2 linked regions of the Homo sapiens genome follow. The protein of the gene in region 1 interacts with the protein of each later gene in a pairwise test. Each region holds a gene or a part of one and is shown on either strand. Other genes may lie near its edges.

The links.
Region 2: the proteins of EPB41L3 (region 1) and UNC13A interact in a two-hybrid assay, tested with the Homo sapiens proteins (one study listed by BioGRID and IntAct).

What each region holds. Positions count from the first base shown.
Region 1 is NC_000018.10:5,410,055-5,426,359, reverse strand, and holds part of EPB41L3 (band 4.1-like protein 3), read left to right. Parts: intron 1-2,000; coding exon 2,001-2,098; intron 2,099-2,806; coding exon 2,807-2,982; intron 2,983-6,428; coding exon of another isoform or gene 6,429-6,482; coding exon 6,483-6,649; intron 6,650-9,981; coding exon 9,982-10,542; intron 10,543-15,740; coding exon 15,741-15,794; intron 15,795-16,305. UniProt on the Homo sapiens protein: Tumor suppressor that inhibits cell proliferation and promotes apoptosis. Modulates the activity of protein arginine N-methyltransferases, including PRMT3 and PRMT5.
Region 2 is NC_000019.10:17,639,105-17,655,409, reverse strand, and holds part of UNC13A (protein unc-13 homolog A), read left to right. Parts: intron 1-27; coding exon 28-136; intron 137-2,732; coding exon 2,733-2,779; intron 2,780-5,822; coding exon 5,823-5,901; intron 5,902-6,065; coding exon 6,066-6,071; intron 6,072-6,426; coding exon 6,427-6,498; intron 6,499-6,759; coding exon 6,760-6,979; intron 6,980-7,917; coding exon 7,918-8,145; intron 8,146-9,298; coding exon 9,299-9,440; intron 9,441-9,566; coding exon 9,567-9,736; intron 9,737-12,449; coding exon 12,450-12,565; intron 12,566-13,853; coding exon 13,854-14,017; intron 14,018-14,748; coding exon 14,749-14,899; intron 14,900-15,501; coding exon 15,502-15,570; intron 15,571-15,884; coding exon 15,885-15,974; intron 15,975-16,192; coding exon 16,193-16,305. UniProt on the Homo sapiens protein: Plays a role in vesicle maturation during exocytosis as a target of the diacylglycerol second messenger pathway.

The sequences.
Region 1 (16,305 bases):
AAAGGTTTTCAGTTTGCATGATTGAAGCCAATGGAGATGACATTCGGCAGGAGGGAAAAGGGGGAAAATTTCAGAAAAACAACTGAAATCCCTTTGAAACAGATTTTCAGGGAGTAACTCTTGCATAGGAAGGAGTTGAACAGAGTTATCAACTGTATATATTTTATTCAAGGCCTTAGACATGGAATAAATTACTCAAAGAGCAAGGCAAGTTAGAGAAAGAAAAGGCCCAAAACTAGAACTCTGGATAATACCACTATTTGAGAAAGGGCCAAGGAGCTGAAGAAATGACAGCCAGAGAAATAAAAGAAGAAACAGGCTGATGGATGACCAGGAGATGAGTTTCAGAGGAAAGTGGTTAGCTAGCAGTATCATATGTTACAGAAAGGGCACGCAGGATGTGGACTAACAAAAGTGTGTTGAACTTAACAGTCAGGCCCCATGATGACATTTCAGAGTTCAGAAGGGCAACAGGAGCACCTGCCAGGTGTGTTGAGGTCAGGAGTAGGTAGCAGAGGCAGCAGGTCGTGGCTTCTGCTTCCTAAAGTTTAGCAGTGAGGAGTGAGATGGGGTTGTGGTGCTGGCATAAGCAGGCTCAGAGAGAGCTGGTTTTTCACTCCTCTTCTCTCTGCTTTTACAATCCTATTTACAGCCTGAGAAAAGTGAGTGAGAAGAAATTGGAGACACACAGACTCTGAAGAAGTTGAAAGAAATTGATATAAAACACAGAGAAATAGATATTAATAAACTATTAATACCTATTCAGGTAGTCTAGGAGCCTGCATCATCCTTGCCTACAGAGGTTGGCAGAGACTCTTCCCAGCTTCTTGCAGCAGAGTGCAAGCTGACTCTTCCATATAACCCCTGGCATTGGCGTAATATGTGCATATTAGTTGCAGGATGAATAAATGGATGATGATTTAGTCACAAGCCACACTATGTCTGTCTTGGCTGAGTCCCTTAGACAGTAGTGATTTTTACAAACACCACTGCACATGAACATCCAGAGTGAATAAGAAGTTGGGAAAGGCAATTGCGGTTGAAGCATTTGTGATGTGTTTCCCACTTCCCCTAATCATCCTCAACAAACAAGAAATAGAGGTCAAACATGATTGTATCTCACATGCCATGCATATGACCCCTCACCTCGGTTCTTTGCCATATAAATGATTTTTGCTATTGATTATAGCAGTAGTACCCATTGTGTGCTCTTTGGGGAAGCCTTTACTGTTTAAGATGATTGCCCTCTGGTGGTCTGATGTGTACCTTCTTCAGAATGTGAAAACCTGTGCATCTGCAGTAATAAAGTATATTATGCAGGAAATGAGATGAGTATTTCACCTCGAAAAATCAAATGGCTGATAAGGCATCATCTGAAGTGTACATGCTGAAAAATATGAAAATATGTTCCCCCAATCTCTGATCTTACGTATGATATAGAGAGACGTTAGCATTTAACACGATAATCCATAGCGGAACACACAAATAAAATCAGCAATCTCTGACACCAAGTTATCAACTACCTAAGAAATACACATATTTCCTGCCCAGGTATTAGGAGAAAAGTCTCATTTCTAAGAATGCTGTAGACTATATTTGTAAACATTTTGTTCATTTCTGTACCTTGCAGTTGAAGTCATTGTGTCATTGAGAAACCATGAAAATAAAAGTTTAAAAGTGATATCAGGGCAAATTGATTTCTGGAAGAAATCAAAAAAACCCCTTTTCGTGTTTGGTTTTCAGTTGTATCATAAGATACACACTTATTCAGAAGACATTTTACTGTATGCATAAAGTGGCTATTTATACCTGCAGCATTTTAAAGACACATTTTTGAAATTAACAAATGAATCTGTATAGCATGAATTATGCATATAGCAATTGATCTAGTAAGTAAATTTTTAAAATTCTGGTGGCATCATGATTCTGTAATTTATTTACAGGGCTTCTGTTATTTATAATTTTAAACTTTACTCTTCAATGTATTTTTTTTTATTTAGTTTGAACAATTTGAAAGCACCATTGGGTTTAAGCTGCCAAACCATCGAGCTGCCAAGCGTTTATGGAAAGTATGTGTTGAGCATCATACATTTTTCAGGTAGGAAGAGATTATTTTGTTTTTTCCCTAAGGAATAATTATAATCACTTATACTGAAAAAGATTGTCAATAAAAAATATGGAATTTTATTCTTTCTATCCCTTCAAGTTCATTGTCACCATATTTCTTGATAAGAAATCCTAAGAGAACTAGAAAAAGACTAAATTTGAAGGATTTTCCCTAATTTGTCATGTACTTACATGTCCCAAACCCCCCTTCTTTAGTATCTTTAGTGTGTTTACATTATTTTTAGGGTGTCCACTTCAAATATCCAATCCATTCCTTACTATTTCAATTCCTTACTATTTCAGTGATTTCTCAATACCCTGAATCCCTTTACCTACCTATGCATGGTACGAGACCCATCAAATTAGGCACCCAACACCAAATTGTCACTCTTCTTCTTCACTAATATCAAACTATTTAGTAGCTGTTTGGGCTTATAGAACCATAGACTGTCCACTTTGCGTGGAATGTTAAAAATTCATCTAGTTCAGTACAACCCTCATTTGCATATATCCTCTCTACAATATCCCTAGTTGATATATACTATATGCATTCTTTTATGAAATCAGATTTATTTAACTGCAAGTTGTGCGTTAAATGTTTAGCATGCAAAACACATGACCTCTCAGAGTAAAAAGTTTAAAAAGCACTCTCAATATTGGACTTAATAGTCTTTCTGCTGTTTTTCTTTATTCTCTTTAGACTACTGTTACCAGAAGCACCTCCCAAGAAATTCCTAACCTTGGGTTCCAAGTTTCGTTATAGTGGCAGGACACAAGCGCAAACGAGAAGAGCCAGTGCGTTGATAGATCGCCCAGCACCTTACTTTGAACGCTCATCCAGCAAACGTTATACCATGTCTCGCAGCTTGGATGGAGGTAGGCATCGCTTACTGGCCCTTAATAACCTAGTACCTACCCCAAAAAGAATGTGAAACTGTCATGAGCTTTCAGTAAGTATAGATATTCCTGGATATTGTATGTTGAAAAGCAGTTGTTGCTTATTGACTGAATGGCACATTTTTAAGTCTCCCCCAGCGAAATGAAAGTCCCTTTGTCAGTCTAACATCTGCAGGTTTATGTAAAATTACATAAAAGAATGGCACTTCGGGAATGAAGAAAATAGCTTTCATAAGCTGACACCCTGAATTTGGAGAAAGATGCTCTCATTCTAAATATAGTAGTCACATACTCTGTGATTTGATTCTCTTGCCAACAGGTCTTAAAGGATTGGTAGGTTTAAGACCATTTGTTTTATAAATCTATAAGTTAAATTTATTTCTGTTTCTAAAAAATCTTTATGAATAAAGTGTGACCTTTATCAGTCAGTTGATAATAGCTGGTAGAAAGGATGACATTCAAATAACAGAGCACAGGGTTGTAAGTTAAATTCTCCTAGTTGTGCTAATTACTACCCCAGATGGACTGGGAGAACAGTGCTAGGTAGGGGTTCTGTACTGCCAAGTTAAATTAGTCAAATGGAGAGATGATCATTCAAACTACCTTTTTAGGGGATAACACAACAGTGAATTTTTAGTAGGGTTTTGTTTTATCGAACAGTTTCTTGATTGCTCTCTGAAGTAATATGGAGGTACACTTTCTGCTGCAAGGCGTGCCCGCTGTAACAATACTCTGGAACTGAATCATGTCTAGGTCTCTGTCTTCTCATTTGGAGCACCTGGAGATTTGTTGTTTTTAATAGAAGATCTTATCCTGTGCAAATAAAAAGAATTAGGAGTTTCTGGTATGCAAGTATGGTTTAAATAATAAGGAAAAACATAAATAAAAATAAACAAAAGTTACAAGTGCATGGTACCATCTCCTTTCCTACCTTTTTTGCCACTGTTCCCCTGAGAGTCTCAGCTCTGCCTTCCCCATTTCACTAGCCGGGTGATTGATGGGGAGAGGTGCTCCTTGAATCTCCCAACTAAAAACAACTGTCTTTTTCTAATGGAATACTTTATGAACAGTTTATAGAAGAAATCAAAATGGCATTATTAGTGCTATATTATGTATGTTACTAGCGAGGTGGAAACTGTACTCTTGTGGCATGGGTAAATCCAGATTGAAGTCCAGGCTCTGCTGCCCTCTGTCTCTGCGGTGGTTGACAAATGATTTCAGCTCTCCAGGTCTGTTTTAGTCATCTGTATAATAGGAATAAGGCCGCCTTTGACGGGGCTGTTGTGAAAAGCAAGATATATGTGAAAGCACTCTTGTTACATAGGTAATTATCTCAATAATCATATTGATAATTACTCTTTTTTCACATTTTTTTAAAATTTCAGTAGCTTTTGAGATACAAGCAGTCGGTTTTTGGCCACATGGCTGAATTGTATAGTAGTGAAGTCTGAGATTTTAGTGCACCTGTCACCTGAGTAGTGCACATTGTACCCAATATGTAGTTTTTTATCCGTCACCACCACCCCCGCCACTGTCTGCCTTCTGAGTCTCCAGTGTCCATTATATTACTCTGTGCCTTTGCATACCCATAGCTTAGCTCCCACTTATACATGAGAACGTATGGTATTTGGCTTTTCATTCCTCAGTTACTTCATGTAGAATAATGACCTTCAGCTCCATCCAAGTCACTTCAAAATACATGATTTCATTCATTTTTATGACTGAGTAGTATTCCATGATGTATATATACCACATTTTATATTCATAATTATTCTTACAGGCTTTTGTGAGCTAGCCTAGGAAGTTAATTGCCATTGTGTGTCTTCTAAGAGTTTCCAGAATACCGAACTTAGAGCCAGCCCTTTTGAATAAAATAATTACCAGGACTGTTTCGAGCTGAATTAAGATATTGAAATATCGATGTTAACATTGAAGCTTTTCTTTCTGGTTTATCCTATTGACTCTTGTTTCTCCTTTAGAGTGTCTCTATTACCTATTTCTATATGTTATCAGTATTTGAGGAACTTTGTAGAATCGCACTTTTTTTTTCCTGAATATCATCCACTTTGTTCAGTGACGTGCACCCCAGGGAACACATTTGTTGTGAATGTTGTTTTCCTTATGACCTTTAGTGTGATAATGACTGCTGAGAAGACAGAAGACAATTGTGAAATCAGTGTACTAATGTCATGCTGTCTCTTTCTCCCTGCCCAAAAGTGATGTTAGTATGTGTTGTCTCTCACTCCTTGCGGTCCTGCCAGCTCTAGTATGTTTTCTGCTGCTGTTGAGCTGGGTGGCACAGCTGCATGTTGCAACATAAACTGCTTTTTTGCAAGGTTGCATCTCACAGAGAATGGCCTAACTGGTCCATTAGGAAGTTGTGTCTCATATGAGCTTTTTCAACGGTGTAAAGAGATATAAAATGTCTTAGTGAAGATATTTTAGTGACATAGTTTAGCTATCGAAAGCATTTCAGAGAGGATTTCATTTCAGAATCCTTTCTTTTATTTACGTTTTTAAATTCCTAAAATAATAATGTAGATATTTTGTCTGTGATTAGTTACTGTGTATTTGAAAAGCAACATTTATAAGTTTTAATAAATTTTATATCTAAAACCTAAAATAATGAGTACCAACTTTTAAAACTTAATTAAGCATCTTTTCACTAAGACGTTTTAGCTGGGATGAAAGGCTCTGTCTTATTCTCTTGAGTTTGCATGTTTTGCATTTGCATGAATTTCATTTAGCAACATTCATTGTGTTTTCCCAAAATATTAGAGATGAGTAAATGTATATGCATATTATGGTAGTCTGTTTAAAATGCAGTAGAAATGAAAACATTTCTGTACTTTAGGTGAATGGAATTGCCATCTGATTTTTATAATCTCTACCAAGATGGTTAATATTTGTTATTACCCATGGAGCTTTTATACTGTAAGAGTGATAGACTTTTCAACATTAATAATAATAATATGAAAACCAATTCAGTGCTCCTTGGTGAATGGCACTTCCAAAGAGCCAAGTGTATTAGAGCAATTGTGTACTGCAAAGACTGCTGTTAGGTGTGGAATTGGCCACTACGAGACTGGTGCCAGTGCCAGCCAATGGTGATAATATGCCCAGCGGCAGCCTCGCCTCATGACCCTCCACTCACCTCCACACTTACACACATCCTCAGCAGAGAGTCTGAGGATAGATGAAATTCCAAGACATGAGCATTTCACGAATTTTAAAGCACTCATATAGGAAATACAGGAAGGTCATGCTCTCATGAAGGTCCCTGCAGCACTGATTTGTTTTTTCAAGGCAAACCTGGTATTTTGTGTTGGTATTTTTTTTTTCAGTAAAGATATAGTTGGTATTGTTCATGTGTCTTCTGACCTAACTATTTTGGATTTTATTTCTTTAATTGTATTTGCTTTTAGCATCAGTGAATGAAAACCATGAAATATACATGAAGGATTCTATGTCTGCTGCAGAGGTTGGTACTGGCCAGTACGCCACAACAAAAGGCATCTCTCAGACCAACTTGATCACCACTGTGACTCCGGAGAAGAAGGCTGAGGAGGAGCGGGACGAGGAAGAGGACAAACGGAGGAAGGGGGAAGAAGTCACGCCCATCTCGGCCATCCGGCACGAGGGAAAGGTATAGCTCCCAGACTGCCTGCAAGAGCTTGCTCCAGCTTTTAAGAATGACTAAATGATGCTGAGGCTGTAAACCAGGAATGTGCTCAGATTTAGGATAAATCATATGTCAGCACTGGTCACATTCATATGTCAATTTTTAAATTATGATTGCTGTTTCAACATTTTTTCTCTGAAAGGTTCATTCATAGCTCTTTGAAAATTTTTATTTTAATAACTTGTGTGCTATGTAAGACTTTCAATAGCTGTCCTGTATGTGTATCTTAAAAATACTTTTGGTGGCGTATTACACTTTTCTGTTTGGGCTCACATTTCAGAACTGTCACTAAAGCTGTTTTCTTTGTTTCTGGCCCCATTCTCCTACCCAAGTACAGCATATTTTTCTAGATATACAATTATCATATTGCCATTCTTCTGACTGTAAGTACATGGAGTGACCACAGCCTACATATTTATACTTACGCCTAATCAGCAGAGTAGTGACTGGCCATGTTTTGAAAAGGGATCTTAAGGCAGAAAGTTGCAACAGGAGATAAAAAGGGAATTTGGCAGCAGCTTCTTCTTTCAGTGTTGAATTCATTAAACTTTGTAACATTGTTTCACCCCAAATTAAATATCTTTTTTAACACCATTTTTAAACACTATGTTTTTTTCTGGTGATCCAGCACTACAAAGCAACTTTTCAGAAAAATAATTTAAAAGTCAAAAAACCCTTCAGGAGGCTTATACCTAATAATAAGGGAAAAACAGAGTGGCTCCTGGCCTGTACAGAGCATAGAGTAAGAGGAAATAGCAGAATGAAAATGCTCATAATAACCCATGGGTTATCCTAAAATTTGAGTAAATTTGATTCACGAGTGATCTTTTGTACATGGGCTCTTCAAATAGAGATGGAGAATCACTACCCCGAATTCTATGGAAAGTGTTCCTTTTGATGAGAATTTAGCAGTGACATCTTAACATAGACAAATAATTTTTGTAGTTATGCTAAAATATTACAAATGGCCCAATCCATCATCTTTTATTTTTTGGGATAAGATTATTTATTTGGCAAACACAAAATTAAGCAGAGAGTAGGAAATAATGGCAGGGATATTTCGATAACTTTTGCTGTTAAAATGTGCTTTGTTCTAAATTTTGTTTTTACACTCTTCCTGTCTGTTCAGTCAAGGAAGGCTTTAAAGGGGACAGAAAAGAATATAATCCACCCAAAAAACAAATATGTGGTTCTTCTTCTTAGTTATTCTAACATTTTATAAACTCGCCATGCCAACATAAGATTCCCATGGATGTATAAGTATTGAAGAAGTGACACATCAATGTAAGTGATTTTTAGTTTTGCTCCCAAGATAAGGCCGGACATTTTCACTTTATTTGCTTTTAAAAGACCACCAGTTTGTTTATATAAAACGTAGCACTAAGCTGTCCTCACTTGGTGCCATTTGTGATGTGGGAAAAGACAAAGGACACTACCAGCCTCATAGCCTGAGTCTCTGAGAAGCCAGCACTCTGGGCAGAATGTCTTCAGGAAGTCTGTAGCTGAAATCTGGTGCTCATATAGGTGTGGGCTGGCTTGGTTTCCCCAGTGCAAAGCTGTCTTCTAGAAATGACTTTAATAATCAGCATGGAAGGTTAAACCTTAATTTTATCCTTCTCCTTCTTCAAAAAGTAACGCAGAGGGTACTTACTTTTCAACCAAAATGAAAGTGTATTACTGAAAATAGTTCTTGAAAGGCTGGTCCCCTAGGTTGCCTGGGAAGGAGGCACGTTTCCCAGGCTGGGATCCCCTGGGTCATGGGGCTGCCTCACCTCCATGCTGGAGGACAGTTGTCTTCATGCAGAAGTTAATGTGTAGCAGCTACATTATTCTTAGTTGAATGAGATTTGTGCAGGTTCCTGTTTAAAGTGCCGTCTTTAATGTCAAATGCAAATGTGTGGGAAAAGACATACTTCTCTCATCGTAAAAAGAGACCCTTCAAAGGCCGAAGAGCTACGATTTTATTTGTGCATTTTCTTTCCCTCATGCCTCAGATGTAACTTTATTTGTGCATTTTCTTTCTGTCGCTATATTTACCACTTCTCCCCAAGTCAGGATTGCATAACCACACAAGGCAGGCTGGGTAATTTCCATGCTGTCAGGCCACTGGGCAAAACACACACATACACACACGCAGTGACACAGACATCAGCAGAAGTCTAATTACTTTCAGGCTTGGATTTCCCGGCCTGCAGCAGCTGCTGTACCTGCCCAGGTCCTGCTTGGGGCTTGCGTGCTTTCCTTCCTCCCCTTCTTGTCCAGCAACCCCTCCGCCACCTGCAGAGGAAACTGGCCCTGGTCGTGGAGACTTCCAGGACCCAGAGAGGAGGAGAAGCAGATTCACTTGCCCCATAAAAGCTTGAGCTCACCAGGGGAGCACCTGTGGAAAACCCTGCTTTTATCATTATATTAAGGACTCAAACCAAAGATCTAAATATGCCCTTTATCTGCTAAGAAAAATCAGAAGGCTGGGAAATTATATCTTTCTGTTATTATGCATCATAAATAATAGAAAGTAAATACTGGCAAAGCATGTTACAAGAAAACACATTGTTTTTGCTAGTTAGCTTGTTGAAATCACTTCAGTTGAAGTTCCACTAATATCCTAAATAAAGGAGCCAAAATAGAGCTTTCAAGGGAACTTCAGTTCTTTTCTGAGGAGTGAGATATTCAGAAATGCTAACTGTCGAATCCCTGATTGTAACTACTTATCAGATAGGAGTGGGGCCAGAAACTTCTTGATTTGGAATGTAAACTCCTTGTTTTGGATGTAATTGAATAACCAGGGAAAGGACTAATGCTAGAGATTGGTTTTTTTTTTTTAATCAAAATCTGGATTGGATTTCATCTTCATTTTTAATCTAGCTGAACTATAGTAACAGCTCTGCTACCTGGAAATCAGGAGAAGGCTATTGAAAGTCTTCATGTTAAGTTATCAGATTTACTTATGTTTGCTCCCCAAAACCTGAAACTTTCTAGAGTTGTTAGTCTAAAGGGAAATTTTTTGACCATGTGAAATGTGTAGACTTTGGGATTGCCCACAAATACCTTCTGTTCTGAGTTTTTAAAGAATTCCACCTGTATGTGATAGTCTCATGGGAGAAATGTAGCCGTTCGTGGCAACAGTGGCATGCAGCTTGAATACTTTAACATTCATGAGCAACCCTAGTGCTAAAATTTTTGTTTTACAATTTTATATTGATACCCATAAGAAAATTAACTAATTGCAGTTTTCTTTTTGTCCTTTTGCACCTCTGTTTGCTGCTTTCTGTCTCTTTCTGTCTCTTTCACATCAGTCACCTGGGCTTGGCACTGACTCATGTCCCTTGTCACCCCCATCCACCCATTGTGCCCCCACATCTCCCACAGAGCTCCGTAGGAGGTGTAAGGAGAATGACTGCAAACTGCCAGGTTATGAGCCGTCCAGAGCTGAGCACCTGCCTGGAGAGCCCGCCTTGGACTCTGATGGCCCAGGGAGGCCTTACCTAGGGGATCAAGATGTGGCTTTTAGCTACAGACAGCAAACTGGCAAGGGGACCACCCTGTTCTCCTTCTCCTTGCAGCTCCCTGAGTCATTCCCCTCCCTCCTAGATGATGATGGATACCTCTCTTTCCCCAACCTTTCTGAAACCAACCTCCTGCCCCAGAGCTTGCAGCATTACCTCCCGATCCGCTCACCGTCCCTTGTGCCCTGTTTCCTCTTCATCTTTTTCTTTCTGCTGTCTGCCTCCTTCTCAGTGCCATACGCTCTCACTCTCTCCTTCCCTCTGGCTCTGTGCCTCTGCTACCTGGAGCCCAAGGCGGCCTCCTTGAGCGCCTCCCTAGACAATGACCCGAGTGACAGTTCAGAGGAAGAGGTGTGTACCTCGGCATAGAACACGCTTCCCCTTCGTGTTCCGTGCTTGAGTCCGAAACAGTGTTAGCTGGCTGCTGCCATAGTGGTCCTACTTTCAGAGCCTCATTTATTGTCTGTGCCAATATGTTGAGGTTTCTGTGTGTTGGGGAGTCCAACCTGGGCCCCAGGGTTAGGCACAACACCATGTGGATGTAGCAGTCTGAGCCCAACCCGGAATCGTTCTGCTACCCACTGAGTTCTACGTGGGATGAAAGACTCAGCCAGAAGTCAATTTTATATAACCCGTCAGCTGTGTAAAAGATCAGGGCTAAGCTAAAGGTTCTGATCAGTTATGGTTTAATAAGGTAAATCACATATAAGACAGATGATGAGTAGTTTTCAACTTAAATGACAGTCAAGGAGAGGTGGAAGAGTGCATCCCCGGAGGGGATGTATCATCATCACCTGGGTAGCTTTCTAAAGTTGCAAAGGTATCTCCTCCCTGGAGATCCTGAAATGTCCCCACCACCCTCTGCTCATCATTGCCAGACAGTCATTGTTACTCACAGAGAGGTCAGTCAATCAGATCCCGCATTGTATTGTGTCAGAGCAGTTTAAAGCACCCACATGACATCAGCCATTGGTAAGGGCAGAAACAAGCCCAGAAGCAACGGCATGCAGTGCAGCAGTGTTCAGACACAATCAGAAAAGGACTAAATTGAAGTTTTCAAACAATGTAAAGGCAGGCTGAAATTTCACCATGCTAGCAATGCCAATGCAGATAATATGACAGCGATTCTTTCAACTGCAGTATGAGTCTCAAAATCCCCCCATTTTCACAGTGTGCTGAGGCTGGGCCTCTATGGCTGCCAGCCAGACATGGACATAGTGGGCGAAAGACCCTGAACTATCAGCCTCCATCCTTGAAGGCATGCTGCTGCAGGGCAGGCTCCTGTCCCCGACTCGAGCAATTGGGCGAGCTGACATGGTAGCCAGTAGTTTTTCCTGTTAATTGTTCTCCTTTCCCACTGCCACACAGCCCAGTGAACAGCCCAGCAGTTTCTCTTTCTCCAGGCTTCAAATAGAGTGCAGGGAAGAATAATAGAAGCTGCCACCAGAGGCCCTGGCTGCTGTCATGCGCGCCCCTCCCCACTCCTCTCCCCAGGCTCCCTGCAGCCCTCCTGTTCCCACAGAACAAGAGCTGTTGTGATAGGAAAAAAGCAAAATACGCTTAGCATTTTTTTTTAAAGTCACAAAGTCAAGGCAATGCTAAAAAAGGAAAGAAAGTCTAAATCTGTGCTCAGCTAGAAAGTCATAATTTGAGCTGCACCTGTGAGTATATAGTATTATATGTTGAGGGTGTGCGAGTATCTATATTTAGTGGAATTATGACCATTTCTTTGCAGCAGAAGGAAAAAAATGTGAATGGTCTCACAGGTGTTTTAAGTAAAAGTCTACACTTTTAATAGATTTTGCATAAGAGACATTTTCAAGGTTCTTGAGTTATATATAACGATTTGCTCCAACTGATATATAAATAACTTTTTATACATGGAAAATATTTTGAGAACTACTTGAAATCCTAGGCTTTAATATCACTATTTCTCATATTGGCAATATTATCAAATAGTGTTGGACTAGAACATATTACAGTTAAGAACACAATATTGTCTACAAATACAATGTTATTATTTATTAGCTGATTTCTAACATGGAGATATATTTTTCCTTTAACAGTCGAGTTAGTCATCAAGCTAACATAAGGCAGAAAAGATTGCTGTTTTATGCTTTTCTAAATTCAAAATAAATATTTCAACTTTTATATAGCAAACCACACAGATCTTGTGCCTAATCCAGGGTATACATCTTGTTGTAATCAGTGCATGAGAATTAATGTTAAACTTGGGCATGTCTGCATTACATTGGCAAAACAAATCACAGCAGTTAATTGTTACAAGCTAGCGAACGTGTGATTGGAGCTTCCCAGTCATAACTGTCCTTGTTATTGCAAACCTCCAAAACCATGAATTAGCACTGACCACTGGAGTCTTCATCACCCTTCTCCGCAGCCCTAGTCAGCCTATATGATAGCTCTCCTGCCATCAGACTCTGTAACTAGCCATCTGTTCAGTGTTGTCTCTTGAAGTGTTAAGAGCTGTGCATTCTAGTTCAGGCTGAGCTAGAGAACTCATATTGAGGTCATTCTGGTCTGTTTTATTTAAATTGCCATTTGCTTACATGGCCTGATTTAATCTCTAGGCCTCAAGCACTGTGGCAGCTACACTGAGTGACTTCTTAACATACAATTCAGCCTTGTCACTTTCGTTTTGCCAAGTCACTACTAATTAATTCTTTTTAAATATTGTATCATCATTGCTTACTTTTTTAACATGTTATGGTGGCTTATTTCCAGCCTTTCTAAGAGTGAAATCCAGTATAAAAAGGCTTCAATATTTCACATTATAAAGCTGTTGACCAGTCATGTTTTTTCTTTTGTACTTTCAGAATGGTCAAATAAGGGGCAGGATATCAAAATATCCTATCAAGAAACATGAGATGAACTTACCTCCCCAAACCATAAAATGCAATTACATGTGTATTTCTGAGTAATTTTTTGATAATACAAAGAAAAATAGAGATAAGTTCAAATAAAGAGGAAGAAAAATTAACTGATTTATAACATTTTAAATTACATAAACAGTATTATATGATAGTTTATGATATGTTATATATTTGCAGTTTTATGTAGTCATCATACATTATAGAAATACCAGTTGCTATAAAAACTGTTTTATTCAGCCTTATTCATTTATTGACTCTTGATCAGGCACTATACTACTGACTGACTGACTAAATGCTAAGTAGGAATTCAAGAAATTTTATATGTGGACTATGCTATTTGTGTATGGCTGAGAAAAATAGGAATAATTATATAATATAATTGTTATAGGCATTTTTTTTTTTTTTTTTTAGCTCTGAGTGTGTCAGGCATTATATAGAGCACTTACTATCCATTACCCAATACAGTTAGGGCTGTTATTTTCCCCATTTTATGGGAAGGAAACTGAGATTAAAATATGAAAAGTGCCCAATGTGCCACAGGTTTGAACAGAAAGGATTTGAGCTCATGTTCATCTGACGTTAAACCTTTCCCTCTTAACGACCACTGTCCCCTAATGCTAAAATGCTTGCAAGTTACTGAAGTAAATTTTAAAACCACAAGGGAAATAAGCTAAATAGGAGGAGAAGCACTTTCAAAAATTTTAGAAGTGTTTGACACAGCTAATTAGAACACTAAATGCAAGTCATTCGAGCTGGGCGCGCGGTGGCTTACCCCTGTAATCCCAATACTTTAGGGGGCCGAGGCAGGCGGATCACTTGAGGTCAGGAGTTTGAGACCAGCCTGGCCAACATGGTGAAACCCTGCCTCTACTAAAAGTACAAAAATTAGCCAGGCATGGTGGCATGCACCTATAGTCCCAGCTAGGACTATAGGGAGTCCTCCCTAGTCCCACTAGGGAGGCTGAGGTGTGAGAATCACTTGAACCCAGGAGGCGGAGGTTGCAGTGAGCCAAGATTGTGCTACTGTGCTCCAGCCAGGGTGACAGAGCGAGACCCTGTCTAAAAAAATAAAACACTAAGTGCAAGTCATTCTTATTTATTCTTGAAAGCCTAAGATCTTTGAGTTATTCTGTACACCTGAACAAATAACTGGTCTCTCTTACTAATTCAAACTGGCCTTTCCCAGGGCTGTCACTCGGTACAGCCATACTAATCCCATAACAACAATCACCTTTATATGAAAATTAACAGCCACCTCCTGCCCCCAGTTGTTAACCAAGCCGGTCAGGTCATGAAAATGGGTCAACACGCTTTCCTTACCAACCTACAGAAAATTATTTTCCACTTAGACTTGGTAGCAAGGGTGCCAGAATGGTGTCCTCAGGTACATGTGCTGAGCATGTGTTCAGCCTCCCTTTCTTTTAGGAGTACGTAACATGAAACATGTGGCTAGTGCCAAGAAATCAGCATAGCCAGAGTTTAGTTTTGTCAGTGGAAACAACACTGTCCCAGTTGCCCCTTCCTGACATTTCTTGTTCTTTGTAGTGGGAGGTTATTTTAAGAACCAGATTCACCATCATAGACTCGCCTCCCATTTTCATTTTTGTTTTCAAAATATTAATCACAGATATTTGATCAAGGGAACTTTATTAATGATTAGTTGATATCTGTGGAGGGAAAGTCAGTTAATATTAGGGCATTTAGATGTCCACAGCTCTACTCTACTCGAGAGAAAACAGTTTTTAAGCCATAAACCCCTGTGAAACAGATTAAAAACCAGTCCTGAAATTACTGTTCTCATTCTCCTCAAAACCTAGGCTCTGTCAAATGCTGTGCTTTGTTTTATTTGTTTCTAAGTAGATGTTTCTCTCTTTCTCTTTCTCTGTCTATTGTTTTAACAATTCTTCTTCTTATTTGCTTCATTTGAATGGTATTTTTGGAGCAAGATGTTCAAATACATACTTTAATATACTTCTTTATATTGGAGGGTGGGGCAAAATAAACATAACATTTAGTCTTAAAAAATACCTAGTTAGCGACGCTACTTGAAAATTGAGTTATGTTTTTCCCATAAAAAATATATGCCTGTGAGTCACTGGCATGTGCCTTTTATAATTGACAGGTAATGCAGACAGCCTGATGGCCCTAGATGGATATAAATTATCATAATGGTATAAATGAGAGGCTGAAAGTCCAGTGACTGTTACAGTAGCTTTTTCTGTAAATTGACATTTTCATTTACCTTTCAAATATGAAATATTACTAGAATAAAATATATATAAACATCAATTTTATTTGCATTAAACATTTTAAGGAGATGTTGCTTGAGGTTTTTAGTTAAAAGTTGGAGGAAGGGTGTGGGGATGACAAATCGGTTTCCCTGAGACATAGAACCAGACAGGTCAGTGTGGCTCCCCAGCTCCTGCAGGCTGAGTGTGCCTCAGGTATTCCTATGAGTTGGCTCTGTTGATGACACCTAGCTCTGGCCCTTCTGTTGCTTTGCTTGAACTTGTGTTCTTGTGAGAAGGTAGTGTGACACAGAGAAATCACAGAGAAAGAAAATGACCTGTCTGACCTGTGCCAGAGCGTGTTTAACCAGATGGTTTACTTTCTGTCCCTGCCTTCCTCCTGGAACCTGATCACTTCTGTGGTCAACAGACTGACAGTGAGCGCACGGACACCGCAGCCGACGGGGAGACCACTGCCACTGAGGTTGGTATTTTGGCTGAGAGTGGCTGGTAGTGGCATACCGAAAATGCCTTGTGGGGTGGCTCTGTGTTTAAGAACTCCACATATGAGCTGTTGTAATGGAGATCAGTTCTAACTTTAACAGTTGGAGTTAAATATGTATTTTGTTGTCTAGACCAGTGGTTCTTAAACTCTGGCCTACATCAGAATTACCTGGAGGATTCCAGCCTCATGTTTCTCATTCAGAAGAGCTGGGGGTGGACTTGAGGATTTATATTTCTAACAAGTTCCCAGGCGATATTGACTCTGCACATCTTAGGACATATTTTGAGAACCACTTGCCTAGACTGATAATACATTTTTTTTTTTTTTAGAAAAAAATTCTATCTCAAATGAGAGGCTACAGATGTATAATAGAATGAATGGGAAGAAGGTCACAATTAACTAGTATTTTGGCTTGATACAGATATATTTTTAATTCCCCAATGGTGAAATAATTATTGTTAAAATAAGACTTACCTGACTCATTTTTGTA
Region 2 (16,305 bases), on another chromosome or scaffold:
AGAGCCTCATAGCGTTCCCTGCCTCAGTTTCAGGCCGAGAGAGGATGAGGAAGGCCAGGAGGGGCAGGACTCCATGTCCAGGGCCAAGGCCAACTGGCTGCGTGCCTTCAACAAGGTGCGGATGCAGCTGCAGGAGGTGAGTGACACGCCCAGCCATGCCCCTGCCACACTTAGCCAGGCCACGCCCAATGGCAGGCCCACACATGTTTTGGCCACACCCACACCTATATTGGCCACGCCCAACACCCCACCCGTACCCAAGCCTAGCCTGGGCATGCCCAGTGCAGTGCCCACACTGTGCCCATGCCCCAGCCACTCGAGCCCTTCCCTGGCCCCACCCTCATTCAGCCTGGCCTCACCCAATGTCACCGATGCCCCACCCACTCTGACCCTTCCTTAGCCACATACACACACAGCCCAGGGTATCCCCATGGCCCGTCCACACCAGCCTGGCTATGCTAACTCCCAAACCATGCACCAAGTCTGGCCCCACACATCCCCAGCCCAGCCTCCTTCCCAATGTCAGCCTGGGGTTTCTAGATCTAGAGGGAGGAGAGAAAACTAGGGCTGAAACTGGGCTGAAGTCATGGTTAGGGATCAAGGTCAGGGTTAGTTCAGCCATCAAAGATCAGAGGTCAGGGTTAGAATTGGTGTTAGGCAAAGGGGTCAGTGCTTAGGGCCAAATTGGAGGTCATTGTCAGGGTTAGGGAAAGGTCTGGGGCCGGCTCAGTAGGGGAGTAGGAATCAAGGGAAGCAATCAGCATCAGGGGCAAGCTGACTGTTTAGATGGGCAGCAGGGTTGAGGCCATTCGTTTATTCCTTCATTCAGCTCACCCTGGGCTGGGGACAGCTGTGTTGCTCTTCAGAGTTACCCTCCAAACTGCAGTGGGATTGGCAGGAGGAGATTCTAAACAGACTCCCAAAGGTTTAGACCATCAAATATCAGAGCCACAAAATTACCAAACGAAATTTCTTAACAGTTTTAAAATAGAAATCTATTTTTTGACTCAGCAGTACATACATATGGTTCTAAATGAGACAGGTGGAAGAGGACACAGTGAAAAGGCTGTTGGATAACTTCCACTAGGTCAAGAAATTAAATTGAAAAAATAGCAGCTACTATTGGAACTATGTGATATACAAGAAAAACAAACTATGGAACTAGTAATATGACAAGAAAAAGACACATGGAAGGCTCTCTGGGTTTCATAGGAAAAGCATAAAACTAATCCAAGGCAATCAGGAAAACTCCCTGGAGGAGATGACACTTAAGGAGAAGTGATGGCCGGGCGTGGTTGCTCAAGCCTGTAATCCCAGCACTTTGGGAGGCCGAGGTGGGTGGATCACGAGGTCAGGAGATCGAGACCATCCTGGCTAACATGGTGAAACCCCGTCTCTAGTGAAAGTACAAAAAAATTAGCCGGCTGTGGTTGCAGGCGCCTGTAGTCCCAGCTACTCGGGAGGCTGAGGCAGGAGAATGGCGTGAACCCGGGAAGCGGAGCTGGCAGTGAGCCGAGATCGCGCCACTGCACACCAGCCTGGGTGACAGAGCGAGACTCCATTTCAAAAAAAAAAAAAAAAAAAAAAAGAGAAGTGATATCCAAAATATTTATTTCAACAATATTTCAGGAGCTCATGCCTGTAATCCCAGCAATTTGGGAGGTCGAGGCGGGAGGCTCACTTGCACTCAGGAGTTTGAGACCAGCCTGGGCAACGTAGTGAGACCTCATCTCTAAAAGAAAAAAATAAAAAATATTTCAGAGCCGGATGCAGTGGCTCACGCCTGTAATCCCAGCACTTTGGGAGGCAGAGGTGGGTGGATCACCTGAGGTCAGGAGTTCGAGACCAGCCTGGCCAACATAGTGAAACCCCACCTCTACTAAAAATACAAAAAATTAATTGGGTGTGGTGGTGGGCACCTGTAATCCCAGCTACTAGGAAGGCTGAGGCAGGAGAATCGCTTGAACCCAGGAGGTGGAGGTTGCAGTGAGCTGAGATTGCGCCACTGCACTCCAGCCTGGGCAACAAAAGGGAAACTCCGTCTCAAACAAACAAACAAACAAAATATATATATATATATTTATTTCAGGAGCTGAGTGTGGTGGCTTGTGTGTGTGGTCCCAGCTACTCAGGAGGCTGAAGCAGGAAGATCACATGAGGCCAGGAGTTCAAGACCAGTCTGGGCAATATAGCAAGACCCTGTCTTTAAAAAAAAACCAAACACCCCCTCAATATTTCAGAACAGAAGAGTGCTGCCTGTGTTCCTCATAGGGCCACCCCTCCCCCCATGTTAACCCTTTAGTTACAAGATGGAGGGAAGGTAGGGGCTGTGGACCCCACGTCTATGCTGAGACCCGAATGATAAATAGAGGCTGGTTGGCTGCAGAAGGTGGGAAGAGGTACAAGCTGAAGTCACAACTCCTGGAAAGAGCCCGAGGCAAGAGAGCAGATGAACAAGTGAGACTATAGGGGGTTTAGGGAATAATCAATGAAGAGACTGAGGTCCATTGAGGTGGTTGAAAGAGAAGAGCTTCTTTCTCCCCCAGCCCATCTTACAGATGGACAAACTAAGGCCCAGAGATAGCCACGGAGCTTCCTAAAATCACTCAGCCAGGACTAGGACCCAGGCCATCTGACTCCCAGCCCAGAGGGGAGTCAGAAGTGGGTGTGGAGCCTGCTCTGGGGAGGGGAGGGACAGCCACACTGACCATATCTGTCTGTCTGTCCTGCAGGCCCGGGGAGAAGGAGAGATGTCTAAATCCCTATGGTTCAAAGGCGGGTAAGTAATGAAACTGTGAGCGGTGGGAGGAAGATTTGAACCCCAAGTCCAAGGCTGGTTTGCGCCTGAGCCTCAGCCCAGAGAGGAGGAGGAGGGGTTCCATTTAGACAGGGGACAGATTGAGCTTGGGCAAAATACGTCACTTTCATAAGGCACACAGCCATACGCAGACACAAAAGACAGTAATCTTTGAAGACAGGGCGGGGTGCGGTGGCTCATGCCTGTAATCCTAGCACTTTGGGAGGCCGAGGCGGGAGGATCATTTGAGGTCAGGAGTTCGAAACCAGCCTGGCCAACATGGTGAAACCCTGTCTCTACTAAAAACACAAAAATTAGCTGGGCATGCTGGCAGGCGCCTGTAATCCCAGCTACTTGGGATGCTGAGGCAAGATAATTACTTGAACCCGAGAGGCAGAGGTTGTAGTGAGCTGAGATTGCACCACTGCACTCCAGCCTGGGAGACAGAGCGGGACACTGTCTCAAAAATAAACAAACAAATAAATAAATAAATAAATGTAAGATAAAGCAGACACTATGAGGAACTAGACACTATTGGGAAATGTACACTATATATTTGTAATCCTGGAGCAAAATTTTTGCGTTGATTCTATTTTTAAATCTCTTTGATTATTGCTACAGTTGTGGGCTCTTTAATTAAAGATAGTTGTTTAGTCTTCAGTGGAGAATGTGGTCATGTCTAACCTCTTATGTTATGGATTTTCAGGTTAGAGGATGCACAAGATATTTTAAAAATATGCTCAGGTTTTAAAATAGCAGCACGATAGTGACCTTCCTTGTACGTCCTTGGCAAACAGGCAGGGAGACAGCAGCTGGGACTCCTAAATAAATGAGCAGGTACCCTAGCTAGAGAGCCTTGGATGCGGGTCCTGAAATGCGGATTCCTGTGCACGTGATTTATGAAGGATGTGCTCTCGGGAGAAACCTGTCAGACAAGGGGAGGCTGCCGAGAAAAGATGTGGTTTAGGAGTCTCTAAGCCTCAGTTGGCTCCTGCAGAAAGCTTTGTAGGTTGAATAGCCCTGCAGGGCTTGTCTGGAGTCATTGGCTGCAGGCACCTATCTCACTGGCCAGTGAAAACCTTTTCGGGGCCAGGCTTGGTGGCTCACGCCTGTAATCCCAACACTTTGGGAGGCTGAAGCAGGTGGATCGCCTGACGTCAGGAGTTCAAGACCAGCCTGGCCAACATGGCAAAATCCCGTCTCTACTAAAATATACAAAAAATTAGCCAGGTGTGGTGGTGCATGCTTGTAATCCCAGCTATTTGGGAGGCTGAGGCAGGAGAATCACTTGAGGCTAGGAGTTCAAGACCAGCCTGGGCAACATAGCGAGACCCCCATCTCTACAAAAGAATTTTTTTTTAATTAGCTATGTGTGGGCCGGGTGCAGTGGCTCATGCCTGTAATCCCAGCACTTTGGGAGGCCTAGGCGGTTGATCACCTGAGGTCAGGAGTCTGAGACCAGCCTGGTCAACATGGTGAAACCCCATATCTACGAAAAATACAGAAAATTAGCCAGGTGTCGTGGTGCGCACCTGTAATCCCAGCTACTTGGGAGGCTGAGATAGGAGAATTGCTTGAACCCAGGAGGCAGAGGTTGCAGTGAGCCAAGATCATACCATTGCATTCCAGCCTGGGCGACAGAGCGAGACTCCATCTCAAAAAAAAAAAAAAAAAAAAAATTTGCTGGGTGTGGCGGTGTACACCTATGGTCCCAGCTACTCAGGAGGCTAAGGTGGGAGGATTGCTGTAGCCCAGGAGGTGGAGGCTACAGTGAGCCGTGATTGTGCCACTGCACTCCAGCCTGGGTGACAGAGTGAGATCTTGTTTCGAAAGATGGCTGGGCATGGTGGCTCACGCCTGTAATCTCAGCACTTTGGGAGGCCAAGGTGGGCGGATCGCCTGAGGTCAGGAGTTCGAGACCAGCCTGGCCAACATGGTGAAAGCTTGTTTCTACTAAAAATACAAAAATTAGCCAGGCGTTGTGGTGGGCACCTGTAATCCCAGCTACTTGGGGAGCTGAGGCAGGAGAATTGCTTAAACCTGGGAGGCAGAGGTTGCAATGAGCCAAGAAAGGTTTCATCTATATTTTATTTTATTTTTGATACAGAGTCTCGCTCTGTCACCCAGGCTGGATTGCAGTGGCGTGATCTCGACTCACTGCAACCTCTGCCTCCTGGTTCAAGCAATTATCCTGCTTCAACCTCCTGAGTAGCTGGGACTACAGGCATGCACTACCATGCCTGGCTAATTTTTGTATTTTTAGTAGAGACGGGGTTTCACCATGTTGGTCAGGCTGGTCTCGAACTCCTAACCTCAGGTGATCCGCCCGCCTCGGCCTCCCAAAGTGTTGGGATTATTACAGGCGTAAGCCACCACTCCTGGCCTCATTTATATTTTAGTATATTATTTAGATTTGCCTTAATTCACGTTTTCATTCAAGGTGGGCAATTACATCATCTCCCCATTTTTCAGATGAGGAGGGTGAGGCCGGGTGTCTCCATTTCTTAGGACTGCTGTCACAAAGTACCACAGACGGGTAGCTTAAAACCACAGCAATGTATTCTCTCACAGTTCTGGAGGCCAGAAGTCTGAAATCAAGGCATTGGTAGAGCCATGCTCCCTCTGAAATCTGTAGAAGAGAATTCCTCCCCTGCCTCTTCTAGCTTCTAGTTTGCTTGAATTCCTTGGCCCCCGAGTATTGGTTTGTAGATACGTCGCTTTCTGCCTCTGCTGTCACAGAGCCACCTTCTCCCCATGTATCTCTTCTTCTAAGGACACCAGTCATATTAGATTAAGTGTCTACCCTACTCCAGTATGACCTTATCTTAACTAATTACATCTGTGACAACCCCGTTTCCAAGTAAGGTCACCTTCTGAGGTAGTGGGGGTTAGGGCATCAGCGTATCTTTTTTTTGAGGGACCCAATTCAACCCCTTAACACCTGGGGGAGGTTGAATGTTCTCCCCAGGGCTCTATGTGAGGAATAGGGACATCTGGGCCCTCAGTGTCCCTCTGTGTCTTTCAGCCCAGGGGGCGGTCTCATCATCATCGACAGCATGCCAGACATCCGCAAGAGGAAACCTATCCCACTCGTGAGCGACTTGGTAAGCACCCTCGCCCTTTACTCCCTGAGCAGAGCAGGCCTGCTATAAGCAGTGCACAACCTGTGGAACTGCCCATGGTCAACCTGGGGTTGGGGGCCAGCTAGGCATTCTCTGAGACTAATGTAGTCTGATTTCTACCCCCATGTGCTGCGTGGACACTTCAGGCCATGGTGAGTGATGGCGACATGGGCCTCTTGGGATCTTCTCCCCAAACTCCCCCACTGGGATCTTCTAACAGGCCCCCAATTCATGGATTATGGGGGAACCTTGCCATGTCCCACTGTGTTGGATGCTGTGAGTCAGGGGTGCGGGGCTGCTCACTTTCCAGGGTCCCTTCTAACTCAAAGCCTCTGTCACCTCCTAATTCTTTGTTGGGTCTGGCCCGGATGCTGTCGGTGACCTGTTTCCAACTTGCGGTTGTGGCTCCAAAATGTGGCTGCTGGCCCCATCCGTGGCTGTGAACTCTCCTGGTGGTGATCTCATGGATGTCAACCCCCCCGACTCCCTCTTCTGTGACCTCCCCAGTCCCTGGTCCAGTCCAGGAAAGCGGGCATCACCTCGGCCTTGGCCTCCAGCACGTTGAACAACGAGGAGCTGGTGCGTGGGGCACCTCTTTTTCCCCGGGTCAGGGATGGACTGGGCTAGGAGCTTCTGGAATTGTCCAAGCCTCTGTGGGTCCCCGGGAAGAGGAAGGGTGTGTGTGTGACACAGACTGGCAGAAGGCAGCGTGGATTCCGACAGCGTGGAGGCAGGGGAGGGCCTGGGACTTTACCGCGCTCAGTGATGGGGCGGAATGGGGCAGGACAGGGACAGCGCCAGGTTAGGCGCCCCCAAACCGCACCCCATCCCTCCCTGCAGAAAAACCACGTTTACAAGAAGACCCTGCAAGCCTTAATCTACCCCATCTCGTGCACGACGCCACACAACTTCGAAGTGTGGACGGCCACCACGCCCACCTACTGCTACGAGTGCGAGGGGCTGCTGTGGGGCATCGCGAGGCAGGGCATGCGCTGCACCGAGTGCGGTGTCAAGTGCCACGAGAAGTGCCAGGACCTGCTCAACGCCGACTGCCTGCAGCGTGAGCGCAGGGCCTGAGCGCAGGGCCACGGGTTGGCGTGGGGAGCCCCGGGGCTTGCATGGCGGGGAAAGGCTGAAGGGCAAGGCGATGGGTGGGGCACCATGGGGCGGGGCAAGGGGCGGGGCGTCGTGAGGCAGGGGAGGGACTCGCTGAAAGGGAGGGGTGGGGTTAAAGGCGCAGGACTCCCTGGTGGAAGGGCTAGGGGGTCGAGGGGTGGGGAAAGAAGCTGTGAGGGTGTCAGAGAGGGGTGGGGCAGGGCTCAGGGACTAGCTAGGTTGTGCAAAGGACAGGCTTAGTGAGAAGAGGCAGCTCCCCTGGATAAAATGGGTTAGCTAGGGGTAGCTCTGAGAGGAAGAGGGGCTCAGAGAGGGAAGGGGTTCAGACTGCGAGAGGACTGTGGAGGGGGGGATTGGAAGGGGGAGGGGACTCAGAGGAGGTGGGACCAAGAGAAAGGGAGGGGTCTGAGAGATGGAAGGGGCTCAGGAATGTGGAGGGGACTCGCAGGGGTGGAGATCAGAGACGAGGAGGGGATTCAGAGGAGTGGGGCTCAGAGAGGCAGCGGGACTCAGAGGGGTGGGACTCAGAGAGGGGGCGGAGATTCAGAGGGGTGGGACGCAGAGGGGGCGGGGACTCAGAGGGGTGGGGCTTAGGGAAGAGGCCTTAGAGGGGTGGGGCTCCAAAAACCAGTGGGGACTCCAAGGGGTGCGGGGCAGAGAAGGGCAGGACGCAGGGACATGGCGACTCAGAGGAGCATGGCTCCGAGAGGAGGTGGAAGGGTGAAGGGTCTGGGTGGGGGGTACAGAAAGCAGGTAGGAAACCGGCTTCAGGGGGTGACACCTGAGTCCCCCCGGTTGATGAGTAGGGGCGGGGCTCTCGCCTTGGTGAGGGGCCACTATGCAGGGCGCGCTGGGGTCAGCGCCGGCCTCGGGCGTCCTCAGGGGCTGCGGAGAAGAGCTCCAAGCACGGGGCGGAGGACCGGACACAGAACATCATCATGGTGCTCAAGGACCGCATGAAGATCCGGGAGCGCAACAAGCCCGAGATCTTCGAGCTCATCCAGGAGATCTTCGCGGTGACCAAGACGGCGCACACGCAGCAGATGAAGGCGGTCAAGCAGAGCGTGCTGGACGGCACGTCCAAGTGGTCCGCCAAGATCAGCATCACCGGTGAGGGGGCGTGGGCCGCCATAGGGCCCCTCCTTCTCCACCCTCTGAGACCTGTCTCATGCCCTGTCCCATGGCCTGGTCCCTCTCCTTTGCAGCGCGCACTCACTCGGTCGGGTGCATTCCATCTCATCTCCGTGTGTGCACGCATATGGGGGGACATGCGTGCCTCCAAACGCCTGTTCATGGCACTGTATCTGGGTGCGTCTTGGATGGTGCCCTCCAGAATGAGACTCCAAGAAGAGGAATTGAGGGTGCATGGTTTATCTGGAAAGTGACCCCAGAAAGTCCTGGTGAGGGGCAAGGACTTGAGACAGGGATGGAAGGAGTCCTGAAGGAGATGCCGTTGAGCAGACAATGCTGTGGGCAAGGGGGTCAGCCCATCCTGGGGCCACTGGGGACAATGTCGAGCATGCAGCTCAGTGTGGCCCCACTTAGGGGCGAGGATACTGGCTTTTCTCCACACCCAGCCTCATGTGGGTTTCCCCATAAACAGACCTGAGGATGAGGATTTCAGGTTATGTGGGTTATCCAGGAAGTGACCCCAGGACGGAGCTGGGGTGGTAAGTCAGGGAGGGAAGGAACCCTGCAGGGGGCACCAACGAGCAGGAGATCTCGGGGGGCAATGGGTTCTTGTAAGTGTCTGACCTCAGGGAGTTCACACCTGAGAGAGGTCCTACCCATGCGCAAGGCAGCTGGGGCACCTTCCCATCCTTCATGGTTTGGGGACTCCTTCCCAGCACTTTGGGAGGCTGAGGCTGAGGCAGGCGGATCACCTGAGGTCAGGAATTCGAGACCGACCTGGCCAACATGGTGAAACCCCATCTCTACTAAAAATGCAAAACGATTGGCCGGATGGGGTGGCACGTGCGGGTAATCCCAGCTACTTGGGAGGCTGAGGCAGGAGAATTGCTTGAACCCGGGAGGCGGAGGTTGCACTCCAGCCTGGGTGACGAGCAAAACTCTGTCTCAAAAACAAACAAACAAACAAACAAACACACAAAAAACCTCTCTGGCAAGCCCAGCGTGCCCTGCCATTGCTCTCCAGCCATGCTGCAGGTGTCCCAATTATCAGCCTGCAGCGTGTGGCAGTGACTGTCCCCAGCATGCCTCGCTTCTTGAGTGCACACCTGTGTATGCCCTCTGTGTCTTCCAGTGGTCTGCGCCCAGGGCTTGCAGGCAAAGGACAAGACAGGATCCAGTGACCCCTATGTCACCGTCCAGGTCGGGAAGACCAAGAAACGGACAAAAACCATCTATGGGAACCTCAACCCGGTGTGGGAGGAGAATTTCCACTTGTAAGTGCCTGGCTGGGTCCCTGGCCCCATGTGGGGCATCCTGCTGGGGCAGCCAAAAGAGGGCTCCAAGGACAGGACTCACACTGGCTGCCTGACCCCTGCCTCTGCCTCCTCCTCCCGCCACAGTGAATGTCACAATTCCTCCGACCGCATCAAGGTGCGCGTCTGGGACGAGGATGACGACATCAAATCCCGCGTGAAACAGAGGTTCAAGAGGGAATCTGACGATTTCCTGGGGCAGACGATCATTGAGGTGCGGACGCTCAGCGGCGAGATGGACGTGTGGTACAACCTGGGTGAGAGAAGCTGGGTTCTGAAGCGGGTGGGGACGGGTCCCAGGGATCCAGCCAGAGCATGGAGCCCACGAAGAGCAGAGAGATGTGTTCTCAGGAGGAGTTTGGTCGAGGAGCATAATCTGATGGGGGAGGCAGGGTCTAGGAGCCCAGTTTGATGGGAGCAGGAAGCACCCAGGCCAGGAGGGTGAGCAGAGCCCAGGAACCTCTTAGTTCAGCTTAGGAGGGAGGGTGGGGACAGAATCTCCATGTTCTAGTCTAATGGGGGAGGCAAGAAGCAAGAACTGGGAATCCTAGTCTGAGGGGAGAGACAGAGACCTAGGAACTAAATCTAAGAAAGAAGATTGAGCTTTAAGAATCCAGGCTGGGGCCAGGTATGGTGGCTCACGCCTGTAATCCCAGCACTTTGGGAAGCTGAGGCAGGCAGATCACATGAGGTCAGGAGTTCGAGACCAGCCTGGCTAACATGGTGAAACCCCGTCTCCACTAAAAATACAAAAATTAGCCAGGCGTGGTGGTGGGTGCCTGTAGTCCCAGCTACTTGGGAGGCTGAGGCAGGAGAATCGCTTGAACCCAGGAAGCGGAGGTTGCAGTGAGCTGAGACTGCGCCACTGCACTCCAGCCTAGGCAACGAGAGCAAAACTCCCACTCAAAAAAAAAAAAAAAAGAATCCAGGCTGGGGGCGCCGGGCAGTGGCTCACATCTGTAATTAATCCTATCACTATGGGAGGCTGAGGCAGGCCAATCACTTGAGTCCAGGAGTTCAAGACCAGCCTGGGCAACATAGTGAAACCCCATCTCTATAAAAGATACAAAAATTAGCTAGGCAGGGTGACACTCACCTGTGGTCCCACCTACTCTGGAGGCTAAGGTGGGAGGATCCCCTGAGCCTGAGAGGTAAAGGCTGCAGTGAGCTGTGATCACACTGCTGCACTCCAGCCCAGGGAACAGAGTGAGACCCTTTCTCAAAAAACAAATATGGCCGGGTGCAGTGTCTCACGCCTATAATCCCAACAGTTTGGGACGGCTGAGGCAGGCAGATCACTTGAGGTCAGGAGTTTGAGACCAGATTGTCCAACATGGCGAGATCAAGCCCCTGCACTCCAGCCTGGGCAACAAAGGAAGACTCCGTCTCAAAAAAAAAAAAAAAAAACAAAAGAAAAAGAAAAAAAAAATGGAATCCAGGCTGGGCATGGTGGCTCCCACCTGTTATCCCAACATATTGGTTGGGTGGCTGAGCTGGGAGGGTCACTTGAGCCCAGGAGTTCGAGACCAGCCTGGGCAACATAACAAGGCCTTTGTCTCCATTAAAAAAAAAAAAATAGCTGGGTGTGGTGATGCGTGCCTGTAGTCCCAGCCACTTGGGAGGCTGAGGTGGAAGCATCATTTGTACCTGGGAGGTTGAAGCTGCAGTGAGCTATGATCATGCCACTGCACTCCAGCCTGGGCGATAGAGCAAGACTCTGTGTCCCCCCGACCCCCCACCACAAGAAAAGAATCCAGTCTAAAGAGGGAGGTATTGTTTGGGAATCCTAATCTGAGATGGCTGCTACAGATCAAAGAACCCTGTGTAAGGAAGTTGAGTAGAATCTGGGGAGTCCAATCTAATGGAGGAAGCAGGGTGTATGAGCCTAATCTGAGGGGGTAGAAAGGACCCAGCCTGAGAGAGGTGAGCAGAGCCCGGAAACCTCTTAGATTGGAGGACATCTAGATATCCCATTCTGATGGGGGAGGTGGGAGACAAGACCAGGGGGTCCTAGTCTGAGGAGAGAGGCACAGACCCAGGAACAGTGTCTAAGATGTGTAGTCTCCGGGGAGCATGATCTGATGGGGGAGGCAGGGCCTGGGAGCTCAGACTGGGAAAGAAGTGGGGCCTAGGGCTGCTAGTCTAAGGAGGGAGGCACATAGCCAGGAACTTAATCTGAGTGAAGAAGCAAGGTCTGGGATCCTTGTTTGAAGGAAGAGACAGGGCTTAAGGAATTCTAGCCTAAACAGGGAGACTCAAGCCTAGGGAGCCAATCAGAAGAGAGACACCAAAGCCTTAGTTTCCGGAAGTCTGGGAGGACTACAGAATCGTGTATCTATTAAAAATTGCCTTGGGAGGCCGAGGCGGGCGGATCACCTGAGGTCAGGAGTTCGAGACCAGCCTGGCCAACATGGTGAAACCTCGTCTCTACTAAAAATAAAAAATTAGGTGGGTGTGATGGCACATGCCTGTAATCCCAGCTACTCGGGAGGCTGAGGCAAGACAATTGCTTGAACTCAGGAGGTGGAGATTGCAGTGAGCCAAGATTGCGCCACCGCACTCTAACCTGGACCACAGATCTCAAAAAAAAATAAAATAAAAAAAAATTTGCCCATGGCTGGCCGGGCGCGGTGACTCACGCCTGTAATTCCAGCACTTTGGGAGGCTGAGGTAGGTGGATCACCTGAGGTAAGGAGTTCGAGACCAGCCTGGCCAACATGGTGAAACCCCGTCTCTACTAAAAGTATAAAAATTAGCTGGGCACGGTGGCAGGCACCTGTAATTCCAGCTAGTTGGGAGGCTGAGACAGGAGAATCGCTTGAACCCAGGAGGTGGAGGTTGCAGTGAGCTGAGATCGTGCCACTGCACTCCAGCCTGGGTGACAAGAGCAAGACTCCCTCTTAAAAAAAAAAAAATTGCCCACTGCTATAGTGGGAAGTTCTGACACTGTCTTCTTTTTCTGCCCTGCAGACAAGCGAACTGACAAATCTGCCGTGTCGGGTGCCATCCGGCTCCACATCAGTGTGGAGATCAAAGGCGAGGAGAAGGTGGCCCCGTACCATGTCCAGTACACCTGTCTGCATGAGGTGAGGGTCATTGCTCGGCCCCTCCCATGCCACTTCCACTCACCATTCCTGCCTGCCCAGCTCTTCCTCTTTCTGGCCACACCATCCACACTCTCCTGGCCCTCTGAGACTGCCCGCCATGCCATTCCCTTTACCTGGAAAACTCCTCCCTATCCATCAAAGTCCAGATTCAGGGTCACCTCCTCTGGGAAGCCCACCTTGGCCTCCAGGTTGACTCTCACTACTCATCATCAGGTTCTTCCTTCTATTCCAGCCCTAACCACTCAGGATTGGGCCGTTTGTGTCTGGGTATGTCTCTTCCAGCTGCCTGGGTTTCCTGGAAAGAACTCTTATCCCCAGGAACTAGTTTGTTGAATAAATGCTGGTGAATGAATGAATGATTGAACAGATGAATGAGTGATGAGTAGATAAAAGGATGGATGGAGAGATGGGTGAGTACATGGATGGATAGATGGATGAGTTGGTGGGTAGATTCGTGGCTAGATGGATGATGGATGGATGGACAGATGGATGGATATATGATTGAACTATTGAAAGTATAGATGTATGGATGGGTGAATTTGGGGGTAATTGTTAGATGATGGATGAGTATAGATGAATGATGGATGGATAACTTGATGAGTGGATAGATAGATTGCTGGATAGATGATTGACTGGGTGGATAGATGAAATGTTGGATGAGCAGATTAAGTTGTATTGGATGGGATGGATGGAAGTGTGGTTGAGTTATTAGAAGGAAGATTGAGTAGATAGGTGAATTTGTTGATAGTCAGATGGGTAGATAGGTAGATGGATGGATGGATGGATGGATGTATAGGCAGATGGACAAATGGATGAATGGGTGGGTGGATGAATGGAAGGATGTGTGGTTGAACTATTGCAAGTATTGATAATTGGGTTCATAATTTCTGAATATTTAGATGGATGGTTGTGAGTGGCTGGTGGACAGACGAAAAATGGATGGTTGGATAAATTGATGGGTGGATGGATGGTTGGTTGTATGAAAGAATGAATGATTGGGTAGGTGGATTAAGTTGCGGATCAATGTATGGGATGGATGAATGGATGGATGGATGGATGTGTGGTTGAATTACTGAAAGGTTGGAAGAGTGGATGGGTGAAATTTGGGGTAGTTAGATGGGTGGGTGTGTGGATGGATAAAAGAGTAGATGAATGAATTAATGAATAAACAGGCAGATGGATGATGTAAGCTGCCCCAGACCCTGGGACCTCTGACCCCCGGCGACCCCTTGCACTCTCCATGACACTTTCTCTCCCATGGTGGCAGAACCTGTTCCACTTCGTGACCGACGTGCAGAACAATGGGGTCGTGAAGATCCCAGATGCCAAGGGTGACGATGCCTGGAAGGTTTACTACGATGAGACAGCCCAGGAGATTGTGGACGAGTTTGCCATGCGCTACGGCGTCGAGTCCATCTACCAAGCCATGACGTGAGACTGCAGGCTGGGGTGCAGGAAACAAGAGGGAGGTCACCAAGTGGGCACTGGCAGGTCTGGGGTGGGAGGGATTCTCAGGGGGAAGACCCAGAGAGGAAGTGGGCGTGGTGGTGGTGGGTTCCGTAATTCCCCTGGAGATCAGGAGAGCGCTGTGATTGACACCTGGAGTGACATGGAAGAGAGGGAAGACTTAGAAGCAGAGATAGAGGCTGGGCACAGTGGCTCAAGCCTGTAATCCCAGCATTTTAGGAGGCTGAGGTGGGCGGATCACTCCAGGTCCAGGAGTACAAGACCAGCCTGGCCAACATGGTGAAACCCCATCTCTACTAAAAATACAAAAGTTATCCAGGTGTGGTGGCTTGGGCCTGTAATCCCAGCTACTCGGGAAGTTAGGGTGGGAGAATTGCTTGAACCTGGGGGGCAGGGGTTGCAGTGAGCCGAGATTGCGCCACTAAACTCCAGCCTGGGTGACAGAGTGAGACTCCATCTCAAAAAAAAAAAAAAAAGAAAGAAAGAAAAAAAGAAGCAGAATTAGAGCAACTCAAATGGATATAAAGATGGAGGGGAGAGGAGATGCGGAGACCCAAAGGACAGAATCAGGCAGGGGATGGTTTAGGAGGTGACAGAGACCCACTCACAGATGCTATCTTGGAGGCATTCTAGGGGGGATCTTGGTCCATCCTGGCTGGACCCCTGGCCTAGTGCCTCCTGCTCCCTCTCTCCAGCCACTTTGCCTGCCTCTCCTCCAAGTATATGTGCCCAGGGGTGCCTGCCGTCATGAGCACCCTGCTCGCCAACATCAATGCCTACTACGCACACACCACCGCCTCCACCAACGTGTCTGCCTCCGACCGCTTCGCCGCCTCCAACTTTGGGGTCAGTCCTGGGGACTGGGATTGGAGAATTAGGGAGAGCCCAACTTTATGCCGGTCAGATCTGATGTGACTTCTGGGTCCCCAGTCTAGACCTGATTGCTGTGTGACTTTCCACCAGTCACTTCCCGTCTCTGAGCCTCCATTTATTCCTCTGTAGAATGCTATAGAATGGAGGTCGGGCGCAGTGGCTCATGCCTGTAATCCCAGCACTTTGGGAGGCCGAGGCTGGAGAATCACTTGAGGCCAGGAGTTCGAGACCAGCCTGGCCAACACGGTGAAAACCCGTCTCTTCTAAAAATCCAAAAGAAAATTAGCTGGGTGTGGTGGCCTGTGCCTGTAGTCCCAGCCACTTGGGAGGCTGAGGCAGGAGAATTGCTTGAGCCTAGGAGTCGGAGGTTGCAGTGAGCTGAGACTGCGCCACTACACTCCAGCCTGGGCAACAGAGCAAGACTCTGTCTCAAAACAAAAAAAAAAATGCCATAGAATGGAAATGGACATTATGAGGGTGGTGGATGAGGTATACTTACTGTACAGTAGGCGCTCAGCCACTATGGCGGCCATGTCCTGCCTCCATCCATCCTCCCTCCTCCCCTTCCTCCTCAGAAAGAGCGCTTCGTGAAACTCCTGGACCAGCTGCATAACTCCCTGCGGATTGACCTCTCCATGTACCGGGTAGGAAGTGTGTGCATGAGAATTTGCTCACCCCACGCACATGTGTGTGCCTGGAGGGGAAAGCTACCAGCAGGTGTGTGCATGGGAGGACCCATCTTCGCATGTACGATGTGTTCCTCCAGCATGTGTGCACCTGCATGGGCACTACCTGCCGTAATGTGCTTGGTGCATCCAAGCAGATCCCCAGTTGCTTCGAGGTGCTCTAATCAACCCCCAGCCTGAAACCGGGGAGCCTTTGTATCCCCCTGAAAAGCAGTCTCCCATCCTCCCCACGCCTTCTTCCATAACCCCACATCTCTTCCTGCTCCCAACAGAATAACTTCCCAGCCAGCAGCCCGGAGAGACTCCAGGACCTCAAATCCACTGTGGACCTTCTCACCAGCATCACCTTCTTTCGGATGAAGGTAGGAAAGGATCCAGTTGCCTTTGCTCTCCAAGGAGGGTTCTCTAGGATCCCCAGCTCCCAGGACAAGTGACATTCCTCCTGGAGAGTGGCAGCCTTTCTCAGTAACCTTTTCCTTTCATACCACTTCATTTCCTTAAACCCAAAATGACTCGCAGTCACTTCCTGGGGACCTCCTGTCACAGCTGTGGCCGCCTATGCCTCTCTCCCTCCCTTCAGGTACAAGAACTCCAGAGCCCGCCCCGAGCCAGCCAGGTGGTAAAGGACTGTGTGAAAGCCTGCCTTAATTCTACCTACGAGTACATCTTCAATAACTGCCATGAACTGTACAG